Regions from separate parts of the Homo sapiens genome. Here all the other regions are linked to region 3. Evidence: fine-mapped expression QTL. A gene starts in region 3. Each other region holds a variant in brackets. All regions are shown on one strand. Distances are between the middles of the regions. Region 1 has its middle 7.5 kb from the start of CCDC92B. Region 2 overlaps P2RX5 (purinergic receptor P2X 5). Region 3 holds the start of CTNS (cystinosin, lysosomal cystine transporter). Region 4 overlaps CTNS (cystinosin, lysosomal cystine transporter).

Region 1 (4,473 bases), 880 kb before region 3:
ATGGCTTCTGCCACTGATGTCATGCTAAAAAAAAAAAACCTATCCTCACTTTAATATAATGACAATACTTATCCACGTTTTTTTCTTTTCTTTCTTTTTTTTTTTTTTTTTTTTTTTTTGAGACAGTCTTGCCCTGTTGCCCAGGCTGGAGTGCAATGGCGCGACCTCTGCTCACTGCAACCTCCGCCTCCCCGGTTCAAGCGATTCTCCTGCCTCAGCCTCCCGAGTAGCTGGGATTACAGGCAGGCGCCACCACGCCCCGCTAAGTTTTCTATTTTTAGTAGAGACGGGGTTTCACCATGTTGGCCAGGTTGGTCTCGATCGTCTTGACCTCGTGATCCGCCCACCTCCGCCTCCCAAAGCGCTGGGATTACAGGCGTGAGCCACCGCGCCCGGCCGAGTAGTTTACTTCTTTAGGCATCACTTCCTGGGTAGAACGGGTTTCCTAAGGGAGTAAGGCACAGAACGAGGCAATGGGCCGCCTGGTCTCTCCGCGCGTCAGTAGGACTCGGGGAACCAGACTCCGCCCAGTGCTCCCCAGAAACCCGGCTCCTCGGCGCGGCGGGGAGAGACCCGGACGGGGAGAGGCCGCTGTCCCGCCCGTTCTGCGGGGCCGGCGCTGACCCGGCTCCAGCCGCCTCCAGGGGCGGGGTCTGAGCGCCGCGCCCTCCCCGCGCCCTCCCCGCGCCCTCCCCGCGCCCTCCCCGCGAGCGCGCCCCGGACACCCGCCTGCGGCAGCCGAGCCTCCTCCACCGTGCGGCCCGCGGAGGGCAGGGAGCGGCCGGGCGAGGCATGGCGGGCCGCCGGGCGCCGGGGGAGAAGCGCTGGCAGCTGGTGCGCTGGTGAGTGGGCGCCGGGCGGCGCGGGGCCTAATGCGGGAGCGAACCCCGAGGCCCGGCCGGCGCGGGAAGCAGCGGGGCGCGGGCCCAAAGTTTCGTCCCGGGCTGAGGCTGCGGGGCCCGGGTGGGCGGAGGGGCGCCGGCTGCCTGGTCCCCACCACCCCCTCCGGTCCCCACCACCCCGCGTCCCCGCGCCGGGTCTCTGCGGCTCTCCAAAGAGATGGGCGACGGGGACCCTGTGCGAGCCGTCAGGCTTTGGGGGAACCCCGTCCCCCTCCCGCGGGGGCGCCCTTTCCCTGCACTTCACCTTTCACGCTCGCACGGGGCTTCCGCCTTCCCCTTCGCCCCCTTCAGGTTTCCCATTTGTGCCTCCCTCCGTTCCTTCTGCCACCCGGGGCAGGGCTCTGGACTTGGGCCCCGAGAAGGCACCACCCACAGCCCCCAACCCCTGCGTGGAAAGGGGTGCTTTAGCCCCGAAACACAGGAGCCCCTGGGGGTGTGCACTCTGGGGACAGGGCGCAGAGAAGGGGGCCTAGGAGACCAGGGCAGGGGAGGGGTCCCCGTGTAGCGGGGCAGTCGCCCTTTCCCCCTCCGCAGTCCTGGCCCGCTGGGAAGTCAGAGCCTGCGGTGTCAGGTTACCGGACTGCAAGCTCAGAGGGTTTCAGACGCAGCGCTGTCGAGTCACCTGATCTGGGCCCCCGAACCCACGTCCCAGGGTTCCAGGTGTCCCAATGTTCAGGACGGCTTCAGCCAGGGGCCTGACCTCTGCTTGGCGGCACTTGGAGCTTAGGGCAGCCTGCACAGCCCTCCCCGGACCTCGGAGGACTCCAAGATTCAAAAGAGAATGTCGGCCTGGGACTCCTCCCCATCCCAAATCATCCCACACACAGCAGGGTCAGAGAGCACCTCTGAAGGTACATTCTGTAGCCTGCATACAATGAACAATAATGTCATCAATAACAGCAACGTGGGCTTCCCCAGCACCTCCCGTGGCTCTGGAGTAGTCAGGATTCAGGCACACACTGAGAGGAAGGTATTAGCACCTCCATTTTACTAAAGATGAGGAAGCCGAGGGTCAGAGAGGGAAAAGGATTCAAGGTCACCCAACAAGCGCATGGTAGAGGCAAGGTTTGAACCAGGTCTTGCTCAGGAGCTTAACTTTTCCTCTGTTTTGCATATTTCCTGGATGGTTCCACCCAGCGTGGCCACACATCCAAGTTCACATTGTCCGAAAATCCCACAGTGTCAGAGCAGGAGGTGCCAATGGGTTTCCAAGTATATTAGTTAGCAGTGGAATCACTCTTCAAGTGAAGCTCCAATAGAGAAACCAGATAAAAGTAGAATTAATCTCCTTTATTTAATTCTTTTTTTTGAGATAGGGTCTCACTCTGTTGCCCAGGCTGGAGTGCAGTGGTGCAATCTCGGCTCACTGCAGCCTCCACCTCCCAGGCTCAAGTGATCCTCCCACCTCAGCCTCCCAAGTAGCTGGGACTGCAGGCATGGGCCATCACGCCCAGCTAATTTTTGTATTTTTTTTGTAGAGGTGGGATTTCACCATATTGTCCATAGCTAGTCTCGAACTCCTGGGCTC[G/A]AGCGATCTACCCACTTCAGCCTCCCAAAGTGCTGGGATTACAGGCATGAGCCACCGTGCCCCTGGCAGAGGTAATCCACTTTTGAATTACCTCAGGGGAGGTGGGCAGTTAGTGTCCCTTTCCTCAAAATGACATAGCATTCCATCGCCCGACCACAGCGCCTGGCTCAAGTATGGGTGTGTGACCTAGGTCAGGTCAGTGACATGACATCATGGGAACTGGGCTGGAACCACTGAGACAGGGAAGCTCTGTCTCCATAGAGTGTTGATCTGGGCCACTGATGACCACCTTGCTGCCACAAGGACTAAAACTGGAACAGAGGGAGGCAGAGGTATAAAGAAAGTAGGACCACCCCAGCACCCCAGACCTTCCAGATCAGTTCCCTCACTTCACAGAAGAAATAGGAAGAGATTTAAGGCGTAGAGCTTGGATGCCTGTTTTGACTCATCCTCCCAACTCTTGCCCCTGGCACTGTCTGCTGGGGTTGTTTCTTGGGCTGGACCTGATGATGCCTGAATTTTTTTTTTTTTTGAGATGGAGTCTCACACTGTCACCCAAGCTGGAGTGGAGTGGCGCGATCTCGGCTCACTGCAAGCTCCGCCTGCCGGGTTCACACCATTCTCCTGCCTCAGCCTCCTGAGTAGCTGGGACTACAGGTGCCCGCCACCACGCCAGGCTAATTTTTTGTATTTTTAGTAGAGACGGGGTTTCACCATGTTAGCCCGGATGGTGTCGATCTCCTGACCTCATGATCCGCCCGCCTTGGCCTCTCAAAGTGCTGGGATTACAGGCGTGAGCCACCACGCCTGGCCACGCCCCCCCCCCTTTTTTTTTTTTAAGATGAAGTCTACCTCTGTTGCCCAGGCTGGAGTGCAGTGGTGTGATCTTGGCTTACTGCAACCTGTGCCTCCTGGGTTCAAGTGATTCCCCTGCCTCAGCCTCCCGAGTACCTGGGACTACAGGTGCGCACCACCACGCCTGGCTAATTTTTTCTATTTTAGTAGAGAGAGGGTTTCACCATGTTGGCCAGGCTGGTCTTGATCTCTGACTTTGTGATCCGCCTGCCTCAGCCTCCCAAAGTGCTGGGATTACAAGTGTGAGCCACTGCACCCAGCCACATGAATCATTTTTAGTGCCGTAATTGGGTTTGGGGTCACCCCTCACCCCAGATAAAAGCTCATCTTTCTGAGAAGGTCCTGAAGATGTGACTTGAGTGGTTAGGCAGCCTGGCAGGGTGCACGTCTGAGGCCGAGATACCCTCTCAATCCATGCCATGCTCCAGCCATGGCCAGCCATGCTCCAGCTGTGGCCCCTGGATCTAGGACTTCCCACTGAGTCAGTTTACTTTCCTTTTTAATGAATCAGGATTCTTTCACTTGTAAATTGTAGAAATCGACTCAAACTAGCTTCAAAGAAAAAGGGAATTTATAGACTCACTGAACTGAAAAAACTCTAGGAGCTCTTCATGTTTCAGGCACAGCTAGATTCAGGAGCTCAAACAACGCCACTGAGGCTGGAGTGCAGTGGCGATCACAGCTCACTGCAGCCTCGACTTCCCAGGCCTGAGTGATCCTCCTCCATCAGCTTCCCATGTAGCTGGGGCCATAGTTGAGGTCCACCATCGAGAGCCACCACGTCTGGCTAACTTTTACATCTTTTTTTTTGCAGAGATGGGGTCTTGCTATATTGTCCAGGCTGGTCTCAAACTCCTGGGCTCAAGGGATCCTCCCATCTTGGCCTCCCAAAGTGCTGGGGCTACAGGCATGAGCCACTGTGCCCAGCCTTGAGTCATCATTCCTTTACCTAACCTCTACTGACAATCTTTCAAGTATTTTGAACATTTTGATATTACAAGCATTGTGGCAAAGAACATTCTTGAATCTATATCTGTGCATACTTGTGCAAAGATAGTGGTTGGATACTTTATTATTTTTTATTTTTTGAGACAGAATCTTGCTCTGTCACCCAGGATAGAGTGCAGTGGCTCAATCACAGCTCACTGTAGCCTCTACCCGCTAGGCTCAGGTGATCCTTCCACCTCA
Region 2 (4,473 bases), 48 kb after region 3:
GAATCAGGCGGAGCCTGTGAACTCCGTCTCCCGCCCTGTGGCCCACAGCGCCCTCTCCTCCCACTGCTGCCGAGGCCGAATCCGGTTCTGTAGAGCATGTACTCAGAACACTTCTCCTCCCCGGGCCCTCCAGCCCCTGCCTCCCACCCCAGCCATCAATATCACATCAGGGCAAAGGCTCGAAGCCACGGGGGTGCTCCACAGGGCTGCCCTCGGGCCGCCGGCCTGGAAGCGGAACTGACCTCACTTCCTCGTACTTCTTGTCACGGTAAAACTCTCTCTTTTTGATGAGGTAGATGAGTACCAGGTCGCAGAAGAAAGCACCCTGCAAAACAGGGGTTCCTGATTCAGAATCCTAGACCTCTGAGAGCACTGTTCATTTAGGGCACTTTGCCCCTTCCATCCTGCAACAGCCCCTAAAGGTGGCATCACTGTCCCCATTTAACAGATGAGGAAACTGGGCTCAGCAAGGGGCACCCTTGTCCGACACCACAGAGCTGGTCCATGGTGGAGCTCAAGCTGGACTGGAGCTCCCCCGATCCCACAGGCCAGGCACTCCCCGACCCCGCACCACCCGGACCCCATCCAATCGTTCCTTCAACACATTTGCTGGGCACCCAGCACGTGCCAGTGTCTGCACCGAAGTACGGAGAGGATCTGGACAAGAGAGACCTCCTGGGGACTCTCCCTCTGGTGCAGGAGACAGGCGTGTCGATGACGACCCACATAGGACTTCACTCAGCCTGGGGAGGGTCCCTATTCAGTCCTTAAGGACTAAAGAGGAGTTTATACAAGACAAAGAGGTGGAAGGACATTACGGAGGGAGGAACAAGCCTGTCACATCTGGGAAATGCCGCAGGGCCTGTGCGGGAAGAGGGAGATGCGCTTCTGGAGAAGGGGATGGGGACTGGCCTGTTAGGCTTCTTAGAATGTTTCCGAGGCATTGGTCCTCATCCTTTAGGTGAGGCGGAGGCACCACAGCCCGAATTTTGGCATTTAGAAAGATCCCTGTGGTAGTCAGTGTGAGATAGGTTGGAAGGGTTCTAACCAACAAGGACGCTATGGTGCTAGTCAAAGAAAGATGATGGGTGCCAGGTGCAGTGGCTCACGCCTGTAATCCCAGCACTTTGGGAAGCCGAGTCAGGCGGATCACCTGAGGCCAGGAGTTCGAGACCAGCCTGGCCAACATGGTGAAACCCTGTCTCTACTAAAAAATACAAAAATTAGCTGGGCGTGGTGGCGGGTGTCTGTAATCCCAGCTACTCAGGACGCTGAGGCAGGAAAATCGCCTGAACTCGGGAGGTGGAGGTTGCAGTGAGCCAAGATCGCACCACTGCACTCCAGCCTGGGCAACAAGAGCAAAACTCCATCTCAAAAGAGACAAAAACAAAAGCAAAAACAAACAAAAAAGGAAGATGATGAGGTGGACGACCCCAGCTCAGCCCCTCACACCCAAAACGTGCCCTACGGACCAGAGCGATGCAATTGCCCCTCTCCTCCAGCAGAGGGAGACTCCACCCACAGCACAGGGCAGGGTTGGGGCCTGAATGATAGAGGAGAGTGGAGGTGGGAAGGGTTGGTGGAGGGGCCAACAAGGAATCTTGGTCCCCTGACCCTGGGTGCTGCACATCCATCCCCTAGATGCCAAAAATGTTGCTTACCAATTCGCTGCTCCCCAGAGACCAACCCCAAACCTAACCTTGACCACCACCTCTTCCTGCGCCATTACTTCCAGTTCACAGGTCTGTCCCCAGAGGGTGCTCTGATTTTACCCACATCACAAGAAAGTGATGAATGGGCTGGGCGCAGTGGCTCACGCCTGTGATCCCAGCACTGGGAGGCCGAGGTGGGCGGATCACCTGAGGTCAGGAGTTGGAGACCAGCCTGGCCAACATGGTGAAACCCTGTCTCTACAAAAATACGAAAATTAACCGGGCGCGGTGGCGCACGCCTGTAATCCCAGCTACTCAGGAGGCTGAGGCAGAAGAATTGCTTGAGCCTGGGAGGCAGAGGCTGCAGTGAGCCAAGATCATGCCATTGCACTCCAGCCTGGGCGACAGAGTGAGACTCCGTCTCAAAAAAAAAAAAAAAAAAAGAAAAGTGATAGCTGAAGGTGGGCCTTCTGTAAGAAAGTAACAGGCGCAAACATCCAGGACCCTCCCAGTGACTGTCTGCAGGTAGGGATCCATGTGGAGCTCACTTTTCTTGACCCCCTCCCAGGAACGTGGTCCTGGTATGGGACACAATTTTCCAGGTTTTAACAAAAGTCACCCCTGGGTCCCAATGGACTCCTCCAGTGGGGCTGTCTTGTGTGCACAGGGAGAGGAATGAGGGAAGAGGCTGCCAGAAACCTGGGAAAGGGACCTGCCGGGATGGGCACTGACCACTCCCATGGCTCTCAAAAACTCCAGAAGGACCACGGGGCAGTGTAGACTCAGGACGCCTTTCCCTGCCCTCAGTCCCTGTGTCTCCTCCCCTGTGAGCCGCTCCCGGCCCCACTGAAGGGCCACCTCTAAGGAAGAGTCACAGGGCTGCCTTCCCTGCCTCTCAGCCTTTCAGTCGGGTGGTTCTCAGCCAGCTGGGATTTTGCTCCATCACAACTGCAGGGGAGGGTGCCCCTAACATCTAGTGGGTAGAAACCGGGAATGCTCTTAAACATCCTACAATGGGCTGGGCGCGGTGGCTCACGCCC[A/C]TAATCCCAGCACTTGGGGAGGCCAATGCCGGAGGATTGCCTGAGCCCAGGGGTTCAAGATCAGCCTGGCCAACATAGTGAGACCCCATTTCTACAAAAAATTTAAAAATTAGCCACAGGTGGTGGTGCACCTGCAGCCCTGGCTAGTGGGGAGGCTGAGGTGGGAGGATCGCTTGAGCCCAGGAGTTCAAGACTGCAGTGAGCCATGATCATGCCACTGCACTCCAGCCTGGGCAACAGAGCAAAAACCCTGTCTCTGAAATCAACATCCTCAGGGTCTGGGAAAATATAGTATCGACCAGAAAAGTGTGAAATATGAAATAGAAAACAAACAAAAACCTCCTACGACACCCAGCACAGCCCTCTGTGCATTGTGGAATGTTTAAGGGCATGTCCAAGGATGTGTGTAAGACCACAACACAGAATTCTCCCACCCAAAAAGTCAGCAGCACCCAGGCTAAGAAACTGTCTGCAGCCTAATCCTGCCCCCTTTTTTTTTTTTTTTTTTTTTTTTTTGGAGATGGAGTTTTGCTCTTGTTGTCCAGGCTGGGGTGCAGTTGTGTGATCTGGGCTCACCGCAACCTCCTCCTCCCGGGTTCAAGCGATTCTCCTGCCTCAGCCTCCTGAGCAGCTGGGATTACAAGCATGTGCCACCACACCTGGCTAATTTTTGTATTTTTAGTAGAGGCAGGGTTTCTCCATGTTGGTCAGGCTGGTCTCGAACTCACAACCTCAGGTGATCCGCCACCTCACCCTCCCAAAGCACTGGGATTACAGGTGTGAGTCACTGCGCCCGGCCTAATCCTGCCCTCTTTTAGCAGAAGTAGAGATAGAGACTTTAGAAGTTCAGGGACTCACCTGGGATCCCAGGGATATCCCAGCCACGCCTCGGCTGGGGACTGACCTAAACCCATGCACAGCTGCAGAGCTACCAGCACATGCCTCCCTGGCTCTGGAAAGAGACTCGGGCTGTCACTGCTACCTGAGGACAGCTGGCAGAGCGTGAAATCCCAGAAAGCCCTCTTTTCCCACGCCTATTCTGATCTTGCCAGCTCTGGTTCTTTCTGGGGGCACTGGGACACGGTCCTCCTGAACAGCAGCCTCCCCCTCCCTGCCAGTGCGGCCGCCGGGGAGAGGGTGGGACGCGGGGAGGGAGGGGAGGTACTCCCAGCACCCATGAGCGCCACCCCAGAGCCCACGTTGATGATGGTGGGAATGATGCTGAACTTCCCTGCCTGGAAGATAGAGACAAGGCCAGTGAGCGAGGCAGGTTGGACAGCGGGGCCCCCAGGGACCCTCCCAGCGTCCCCCTCCCAGCCTGAGAACAGGAGAACGCACAGCGGGGCCCCCAGGGACCCTCCCAACGTCCCCCTCCCAGCCTGAGAACAGGAGAACGCACAGCGGGGCCCCCAGGGACCCTCCCAACGTCCCCCGCCCCCCGCCCAGCCTGAGAACAGGAGAACACACAGCGGGGCCCCCAGGGACCCTCCCAACGTCCCCCGCCCCCCCGCCCAGCCTCAGAACAGGAGAACGCACAGCGGGGCCCCCAGGGACCCTCCCAACGTCCCCCGCCCCCCGCCCAGCCTGAGAACAGGAGAACACACAGCGGGGCCCCCAGGGACCCTCCCAACGTCCCCCTCCCAGCCTGAGAACAGGAGAACGCACAGCGGGGCCCCCAGGGACCCTCCCAACGTCCCCCGCCCCCCGCCCAGCCTCAGAACAGGAGAACGCACAGCGGGGCCCCCAGGGACCCTCCCAACGTCCCCCGCCCCCCGCCCAGC
Region 3 (4,473 bases):
GTGCAAGATGTGCTTTGTTAAACAGATGCTTGAAGGCAGCATGCCCGTTAAGAGTCATCACCACTCCCTAATCTCAAGTACCCAGGGACACAAACACTGCGGAAGGCCGCAGGGTCCTCTGCCTAGGAAAACCAGAGACCTTTGTTCACTTGTTTATCTGCTGTCCTTCCCTCCACTATTGTCCTATGACCCTGCCAAATCCCCCTCTGCGAGAAACACCCAAGAGTGATCAATTAAAAAAAAAAAAAAAGTGGCCATGCTGGGTGCGGTGGCTCACACCTGTAATCCCAGCACTTTGGGAAACCGAGGCAGGCAGATCAGTTGAGGTCAGGAGTTTGAGACCAGCCTTGCCAACATGGTGAAACCCCATCTCTACCAAAAATACAAAAAAATTCTCCAAGCATGGTGGCGCACACCTGTAATCCCAGCTACTCGGGAAACTGAGGCACGAAAATCACTTGAACCCGGGAGGCAGAGGTTTCAGTGAGCAGAGATTGCACCACTGCACTCCAGCCTGGGTGACAGAGCGAGACCCTGTCTCAAAAAAAAAAAAAAAAAAAAAAGAAGTGCTCTATTTCAGGAGAAACTGGCACTTTCTGAGCCTACTCTCCCCTAATGCCAGCTCTCCTGCTCACCCCACCAGGGTCAGAGCCAACTTTGCCTCCAATTCATAGTCCTTTAAGTAAGAATCCTTTTAATATGCCCTAATGTCCCAACCAAACTAATCTTGAAAGCTTCTATGTAGATACAAAGTGCTCCTGAAATCCCTATCCTCAGAAATGCTTCTGAGCCAAATGGGCTCTGAACCCTAAACAACCGTGTCCATGTATGTGGCAAGAGCTTGTGAAAAACAAAGCTGGGCCAGGCGCAGTGACTCACAACTGTAATCCTAGCACTTTGGGAGGCTGAAGTGGGCAGATCACTTGAGGTCAGGAGTTCAAGACCAGTCTGGCGAACATGGCGAAACCCTGTCTCTACTAAAAATACAAAAAGTAGCCGGGCGCGGTGGCTCACACCTGTAGTCCCAGCTACTCGGGAGGCTGAAGCAGGAGAATCACTTGAATCCAGTTGGCGGAGGTTGCAGTGAGCCCAGATCACGCCACTGTACTCCAGCCTGGGCAACAGAGCGAGACTTGGTAAGAAAGAGAAAGAAAGGAAAGAATGAAGGAAGGAAGGAAGGAAGGAAGGAAGGAAGGAAGGAAGGAAGGAAGGAAGGGAAGGAAGGGAAGGAGTCTCGCTCTGTCACCCAGGCTGGAGTGCAACGGAGCGATCTCGACTCACTGCAAGCTCCGCCTCCCGGGTTCGCGCCATTCTCCTGCCTCAGCCTCCCGAGTAGCTGGGACTACAGGCGCCCGCCACCACGCCCCGCTAATTTTTTGTATTTTTAGTACAGACGGGGTTTCACCGTGTTAGCCAGGATGGTCTCGATCTCCTGACCTCGTGATCCGCCCGCCTCGGCCTCCCAAAGCGCTGGGATTACAGGCGTGAGCCACCGCGCCCGGCTGACCAAAGGTTTCTTGGTCCGCATTCTGCTTCTGTGGAATGAGCCAGGAGCCAGTTAGGCCTGATTTGACATCTGATTTCCGGAGGAAAACCCAGACTCTGCCCTGGGCAACAAACTGAATCCTGAACTTGAGGTCACAGGGCAGGTGTGAGGAGCGGAGAGCAGCAAGAGTGAAAGGGAGGCCTGTGGTCATTCCATACACACAAGAGATCAGTTCCTCCAAGGTCAGGGGACAGAGAGCACAGGGATCCAGCGCCAAGCGCAAGGCCCCCAGAAGAAGCCAGAGAGTCGGGGAGGGGGCGGGGGGGAATCGGTCCCAGCAGGTGGGAAGGATTCTGGGACCAGACCTAAGGGATCATGAGCACAGCTGCTGCAGGCAGACGGGCCCCTGGAGAAGCTGGGGACAAGCTGGAATAGAGACTTCATTGCGGGAAGGGCTGTCAGGGAGGCCTCCTGGGGTGGAAAAGGGTGGTCAGGAGGCTCCTGGAGGCGGCGCGGCCCCGGGGGTCCAACTCACCTGGGGCCCGGCCACCGCGCTCTCGACCGCCGCCTCTGCCCGCGCAGCACGGGCACAGCTCGCCAGCACTGCGAACCCGGATGGGTCGTCGGGCGCGGCCCTCAGCAGAGCTGCCTTCACAGATGTGGTGCCCAGGTCAATGCCGAGGGTGATCGGCCGCGCAGCCATTATCTCCCTGACCCGCGCAGCTCCAGTCTGCAGCCAGCGGCCCCACAAGTCCGCGCTCTTCGCCCAGGGGGGCGGGGCAGGGGCGGGGAGTCGCCTGCCAATCTTTCAGCCACACCCAACATGGAGGCTTCTCGTCTTCCCACTGGCCGGGGAAGGCGAGCTTCCACGCAACCTCTCGGCGGGCCCCGGCTATAGGCGGAGAGGCGGCGGAAGGCGGGACCTAAAGGGGGCCCCGCCCCACGGGCTCTGATTTCCGCCCAATGGAGGGCGGTCTGAGCTTCGCTCACGAAAGGAGCCGGGAGGCGCTGGCGGCTCCAAGAGTCTCTGTGTCCCTGGCAGCGGACCTCATCTTCCCTCACGCCGGAGCCCCGATCTCTGCGCCCCGGCCCGACCCAGCTGCGCTCTGTCCGTCTAAGACGCGCGGAAACTACAACTCCCAGAGCTCATCTCGCCGAGATCCGGCCCCACGAGTCAGGTGGCGGAGGTCAGGTGACAGCGGACCCGCCTCTCCCAAAGTCTAGCCGGGCAGGGGAACGCGGTGCATTCCTGACCGGCACCTGGCGAGGCTCATGCGTCCCGTGAGGGCGGTTCCTCGAGCCTGGGGGCGCTCAGGTGAGAGCGGACGCGGCCTCCCCTGTTTCCCAGGCGGACCCCTTGAGGCACAGCAGGTCAGCGGGGCAGCCTGCCGGGGGTCCAGCGCCCTCAGCCGCGGCGGGCTCCTTTCCCCGCCACCAGTGCTGGCCTCGCGACACGGGACAACCCCCGGGTGGAAGGGCCCGAGCGGTGGTCAGCCGAGGCAGGGGCAGCGGGCTGCCGGGGTGGGTGCCGTTCCCAGCCCCTTACCTTCTGCTCAGTTGCCGCCTGGGTCTCGGTTGGGGAATTTGCAGATTGCTTTGGAGACGCTGAGAGAACCTTTGCGAGAGCGCCGGTTGACGTGCGGAGTGCGGGGCTCCGGGGGACTGAGCAGCACGAGACCCCATCCTCCCCTCCGGGTTTTCACACTGGGCGAAGGGAGGACTCCTGAGCTCTGCCTCTTCCAGTAACATTGAGGATTACTGTGTTTTGTGAGAGCTCGCTAGGCGCCCTAAGCAACAGAGGTAACCACTTTATATCCTTGTTTCTCAACCTCGTTATTCCTACCTACCCCCTTCCCATAAAATTTAATACCACTAGTACGCTGTGTATTTGTTTCTGTGGCCACAAACCATTGTAATAGCTAGATTTCTTCACTACCACCCCAAGCCAATTTTTTTTTTTTTTTTGAGATGGAGTCTGCAGCCTCTGTCACCCAGGCTGGAGTGCAGTGGCGCGATCTCGGCTCACTGCAACCTCCGCCTCCGGGGTTCAAGCGATTCTCCTACCTCAGCCTTCCGAGTAGCTGGGACTACAGGCCTGAGCCACCATGCCCAGCTAATTTTTGTATTTTTAGTAGAGATGGGGATTCACCATGTTGGCCAGGCTGGTCTCGAACTCCTGACCTCAGGTGATGCGCTCACCTCGGCCTCCCAAAGTGCTGGGATGACAGGCGTGAGCCACCGCGCCCAGCCTACCCCCAGCCAATTTTAGTCCCACTTGACAATGCGTGCTTTACATCTCCTCATTTAAGTCCTGTGAGGTAGTTACCACCTCCTTGTTTGGCACCACAAGGTCGCATAAGTAATAAATAGGTCAAGCCTGTCTCCAGTGCACACAGCCCTTGCCACTATTTGTGTACCCTCTCCAAAAGCAGGAGACCCAGGGAGTTCCAGGTCGTAGAACAGAGGACAGGACCAACTCATACCTGGCAGACAGGAGCTGCCACACTAGACCCCTAGCCCCAGGTTGCTCCTGGGAAGGGACTGAATGGGTGAGGAGCCTTCTTGAAACATGTGACATCTGAATGAGGCCTGGACAATAGTTAGAACTTACATAGGAAGGGCACGCCAGACAGAGCCCATTGTCAGGAGATACTTCATTTCTATCTTGTAGCTTTCACAAGCCACTAGTTGTATGTAATTATCAATCTGGTTTTTTTTTTGTTTTTTTTTTTTAATTTGAGACGGAGTTTCACTCTTATCACTCAGGCTGGAGTGCAATGGTGCAATCTCGGCTCACTGCAACCTCCACCTCCCGGGTTCAAGCGATTCTCCTGCCTCAGCCTCCTGAGTAGCTGGGACTACAGGCACATGCCACCACGCCTGGCTAATTTTTGTATTTTTAGTAGAGACGGGGATTCACCATGTTGGCCAGGCTGGTCTCGAACTCCTGACTTCAAGTGATCCAACTGCCTCGGCCTCCCAAAGTG
Region 4 (4,419 bases), 22 kb after region 3:
TCCCTCCACCCCCTGCAGTGTCATTGGTCTGAGCTTCGACTTCGTGGCTCTGAACCTGACGGGCTTCGTGGCCTACAGTGTATTCAACATCGGCCTCCTCTGGGTGCCCTACATCAAGGTACGGCCTTGCCTGCCCTACATCTCTGCCCACATGGCGTGGTGGCCCGGCTGCCCCTCACCACCCAGCTTCTCCCACCCACCAAACAGGAGCAGTTTCTCCTCAAATACCCCAACGGAGTGAACCCCGTGAACAGCAACGACGTCTTCTTCAGCCTGCACGCGGTTGTCCTCACGCTGATCATCATCGTGCAGTGCTGCCTGTATGAGGTGAGACCAGCCCTGGCCCCCCACAGGCCACCCCAGCCAACACCCGCCACCCCACCTCACCTTTGACAGAAGACACGGCAGAGCCTGGGAAAGGAAGGGTGTGTGTTCATTCATCCAGGTCCTGTGCTGGGCATAGAAGACACCCATGAGTCCAGGCCCTCAGAGCCCCCCAAGTCTGGGGTGAGGGACTCAGGGAGAGGCAGTGCCTGGACTCAGGCTGAGAGCCGTGCACAGAGGAGCACAGACAGCTCATGGAGGAGTGCAAGGCCCTGAGCCCTGCCAGGGAGGAGGGAGGAGGGCACAGAAGGGAGGAGGGAGGAGGGCACAGAAGGGAGGAGGGCAGAGGAAGACGCTTGGTTGGGCTCCAAGGATGAGTGAAGTTCCTATGGAGGAGGGGAGGGGCCAGGGTGGGCTCCTGGAGGGGTCAGGTCACAGAGGCCAAGGGGCATTTGAGAGGGACCCTGAGCAGGCGGGTGCAGCTGGGCTTCAGGGTGCCAGGAGGGGGCCCGCGTGCAGGCGGAGACACCTGTATTCAGCTTTGTTGCTGGAAGCCATGGGTGTCGGCAGGGCAGGGCCCCACCAAGGCTGGGTCCGGGGACCCCTGATATGACAGCTTTGCTTTCCCTTCTCTCAGGGAGTTCCCTTCACACTGTAAGGCCAGCTGGGGGCTGTCTGGCCCCACCCGTATGAACCTTCTAGGCTTTCTTAGCTTTTGGTGTGAAGCGAGAGTGAAGGTGGCCCACATTGGGCCCGTGTTCAGGGAAAGGCAAGGCGAGGGGACAGATTCCTGAGATCCTCAGGCTGCTGCCGGGTCGTGGGACGAGTCAGTACCTGGCTGGGAGAGGCACCAGGCCACCAGAGTTCCGACCCCACGTCTCCAAGTGAGTGCTGAGAGGCGCCCAGTTCTGCCAAGTAGGAACAAAGCAGACAGAGCTTGAGAGTCCAAGCAGCCTGAACAGGAGGCCCTGGCGATGAGAAGGTGTGGTTGGTGCTGGGGATGTCCAGCACCAGCCCAGGTGTGATGCTTTCTGTGGTCCACATGTTCCCCTGCCACAACCCCAGTGCAGCCCCCACCTTGCAGGGGCTCCTTCAAGGCCAGGGTCCAGCCTCCGTGCCCCTCTCTAAGCCCGCCCTATCCGGGGCCGTCCTTGCTCAGCCCCGGCGTGGCCTCTGTGTGGGTCCACATCTCTGCCCTCCTCTCGCCCCCAGCGCGGTGGCCAGCGCGTGTCCTGGCCTGCCATCGGCTTCCTGGTGCTCGCGTGGCTCTTCGCATTTGTCACCATGATCGTGGCTGCAGTGGGAGTGACCACGTGGCTGCAGTTTCTCTTCTGCTTCTCCTACATCAAGCTCGCAGTCACGCTGGTCAAGTATTTTCCACAGGTACCTCCAGGGCCCTGTTCACATGGCCGGTGGCAGGAGAGGTGAGAGCTACATGGCCCAGGCCCTGCTCCGGTGGGGCAGCTCCTGCCGGCGTGAGGAAACAGGACGGAAAGCCACAGGGAGCCCGGGAGCCCAGCGGGAGCGGGGCGGTGGGGAGGCCAGCCTGCCGCTCTTCCCCCGGGGCTGGAATCACAGGAGATCGCTAGCGGAGGCCCCTTGGACCCCACGCTCCCCTAAGCATCAGGTGTGCGGGTGGTTCCCCTTCTCCACACCCCAGCCTTTCCTGATGCCTTTGGCTCTGCCCTCACCACTGCCTCCATTTCCACAGCAGGACACTCTGGAGAGGT[G/A]AGGTGGGAGGAGGGAGCCCCTTCCCGCGCAGAGCTCAGCCCGTCCTATGAGCATAGCCGGTCCTCTTCAGATCCGGGGACTCAGGGTCCAGCACATCTTGCCCCACAGCCTGGGACAGGGTCAGGGCTGAAGTTGCTGCACCCGGGGACCTAGGGCCTCATTTAACTCACCCCATTCCCAAAGGGAGAAGCCTTGTTCCAGTGCCCCCAGCCCTGGGAGCCTCGTGTTCTGTGAGCTCAGGAGGGCCAGCGTTCTGACTGGGAGGCAGGACTGGACTCTTAGGCTGAGCAGGACTAAGTTCTGTGGCCAAGGAGCCCGGGCGTTCCGGGCCAGGCCAGCCTGCACAGAGGCTGGGGCGGGACACGGGGCGGCAGTGAGGGGATGTGGCTGGTTGAACAGTGTTGAGCATGTTGAAGCTGGGAAGCTGGGGTCAGGTCCCGGGAGCTGGGGGGGGCTTCCGAGGAGGGGAAGGTTTGGGGAAGTGGGCCCCAGTCCCTGAGGGTGGGAGGGATTGGGGCCAAGAAACCGGGGATGGAGGAGCCCAGGTTGGAGACGTTTGGAACTGCTGGAGGGGCAGCAGCAAGTACGGAAGAGGGTGAGCCGGGACACAGACAGGGACTGACTAGAGGCTCACTGGGAGGCCACCAGAGAGGCCAGGACCTGCCTCACGGGGGGAAGGAAAGGTCACAGCAGTCAGAGGACCCACAGGGCTCTGCAGCATGGGAGGACGTGGGGCACAGGCAGTCAGACTGGGGCGCATCCCCGCAGACCCGCCCCCCCAACCAGACCCAGGAAGCCCCGGCCAGGCCTGTGGGGGGCGTTAACCCCGCTCTACAGACGGGGAAACCAAGGCTAGGAGAACTGTCACTTGCCCAAGACAGCAGGCTCCGGTGATGGAGCCAGGATTCCAAACCAGAAGTCCCACTCCCACCAGTCCCTAAGCACATGAAGTCCAGGCTGAGTTTGGGGACAGCCTTGCCTGGAGGTGAGAAGAAGAATCATAGCTACAGGGAAACTAGCACAGGGCCTTGGCCCCAGGGATGTGGAGGAGACGGGGAAGGCCGCATCGGCCCCGCCTCTGCTGGAGCTGTGAGGTGTGGGGGGTGCGGGGCCTTTGCTTGCTGTACATGCAGATGAGACGCCTACCCCCAGGACCACCCAAACTGTTCCTTGGCTGAGGCCTGTCATAGCCCAAAGGTCACCGTGTCCTTGGAGCCAAGGCCCCAGTGGGAGGAATGAGAACCGCTTTTGTTTGGAGGGGCAGTCACGAGGCGCATGAGGCAGCCGCCCAGCCCTCACCGCCCTCCGTCTGTCTGTCCGTCTGTCTGGCCCAGGCCTACATGAACTTTTACTACAAAAGCACTGAGGGCTGGAGCATTGGCAACGTGCTCCTGGACTTCACCGGGGGCAGCTTCAGCCTCCTGCAGATGTTCCTCCAGTCCTACAACAACGGTGAGTCAGCCAGCGGGCTGCTGGCCACCCTGCGGCTGGGGCATCGGGCGGGGCCAGCCTTCCCGGGACCTTCCAGCCAGGGCTCCACCCCCACCTGGGATCCAAGCCAATCCAGCCCCCAAGGAGAGACCCACCTAGGGGCCTTCGTAGCTGGAGGCTTTGTGGTTTTCTGGGACCCCCACCGCCCACCACCCCACAAGCTCCAGCTGCCTCAGGAGCTGCCAACCTAACACCAGCTTCTGTCCCCCGGCTGCTAACAGACCAGTGGACGCTGATCTTCGGAGACCCAACCAAGTTTGGACTCGGGGTCTTCTCCATCGTCTTCGACGTCGTCTTCTTCATCCAGCACTTCTGTTTGTACAGAAAGAGACCGGGGTATGACCAGCTGAACTAGCACCCAGGGACCCAGTGTACCCAGCCTCTGGCCTCGTGCCCTGCTGGGGAAGGCCTCACCCAGCGAAGGCCGGAGAAGCGGTTGGGCCCTGGCACACAGGGCTGGCTCAGTGTGCGGACAGAGGAGACCACTCTGCTCCTGGGGCCAGAGGCCATTCAATAGCCTGCCTTCGTCCGGGCCCCTCCTGGGCCTCCCCGGCCAGGCACGTGGCACCGTCGCCTTGACACCGCCATCTCTTTTCTTTAAGGCTTCAGGCAGCGCGCACAGGCTCTGGCAGCCGTCTCAGGCAGGACTGGGCACCAAGCTTGCAGCCGAAGGCCTTGCCCCAAACTACCAGCGTTTCTGCAAGCAGCTTGAAGGGCTGACCTTGCAGCCGGGTGAGCCAAGGGCACTTTGCTGCCACCGCTGCATTCCCAGAGATCAAGCAGCCCGGTGCCGTGGCCAGTGAACTCAGAGGTGCTGGTGGACGGGCTAGGACTTTGGGGTTAGGCCATGGGGCTCTTTCTCTGAAGGCCACT

The links. PIP is the estimated chance that this variant, and not a neighbour inherited with it, causes the effect.
Region 1: its variant is fine-mapped to the expression of CTNS in minor salivary gland (GTEx, PIP above 0.99).
Region 2: its variant is fine-mapped to the expression of CTNS in whole blood (TOPMed, PIP above 0.99).
Region 4: its variant is fine-mapped to the expression of CTNS in whole blood (TOPMed, PIP above 0.99). The same link has a PIP of 0.9 or more in blood mononuclear cells.

Annotation. Positions count from the first base shown.
Region 1 is chr17:2,754,926-2,759,398 of GRCh38, forward strand. It overlaps a transcript of RAP1GAP2 not described here. Among named protein-coding and RNA genes, the nearest start is that of CCDC92B, 7.5 kb to the left of the region's middle. RefSeq lists a silencer at 163-372. The variant G/A (reference allele first, on the strand shown) is at 2,431.
Region 2 is chr17:3,681,654-3,686,126 of GRCh38, forward strand. It overlaps P2RX5 (purinergic receptor P2X 5), which reads right to left. Exons shown (of 12, transcript NM_002561.4): 10 at 243-325. It overlaps P2RX5-TAX1BP3 (P2RX5-TAX1BP3 readthrough (NMD candidate)), which reads right to left. Exons shown (of 15, transcript NR_037928.1): 10 at 243-325. Among named protein-coding and RNA genes, the nearest start is that of P2RX5, 12 kb to the right of the region's middle. The variant A/C (reference allele first, on the strand shown) is at 2,693.
Region 3 is chr17:3,634,031-3,638,503 of GRCh38, forward strand. It overlaps CTNS (cystinosin, lysosomal cystine transporter), which reads left to right and starts at 2,730. Exons shown (of 12, transcript NM_004937.3): 1 at 2,730-2,801; 2 at 3,077-3,286. It overlaps SHPK (sedoheptulokinase), which reads right to left and starts at 2,220. Exons shown (of 7, transcript NM_013276.4): 1 at 2,022-2,220. The coding sequence starts at 2,189. LOC105371493 (a long non-coding RNA gene) reads right to left here. Exons shown (of 6, transcript XR_007065579.1): 6 at 4,467-4,473. RefSeq lists enhancers at 1-637, 2,476-2,725 and silencers at 1,936-1,995, 3,006-3,095.
Region 4 is chr17:3,656,469-3,660,887 of GRCh38, forward strand. It overlaps CTNS (cystinosin, lysosomal cystine transporter), which reads left to right. Exons shown (of 12, transcript NM_004937.3): 8 at 19-118; 9 at 208-327; 10 at 1,537-1,707; 11 at 3,390-3,507; 12 at 3,768-4,419. The coding sequence ends at 3,901. Among named protein-coding and RNA genes, the nearest start is that of TAX1BP3, 9.9 kb to the right of the region's middle. The variant G/A (reference allele first, on the strand shown) is at 2,055.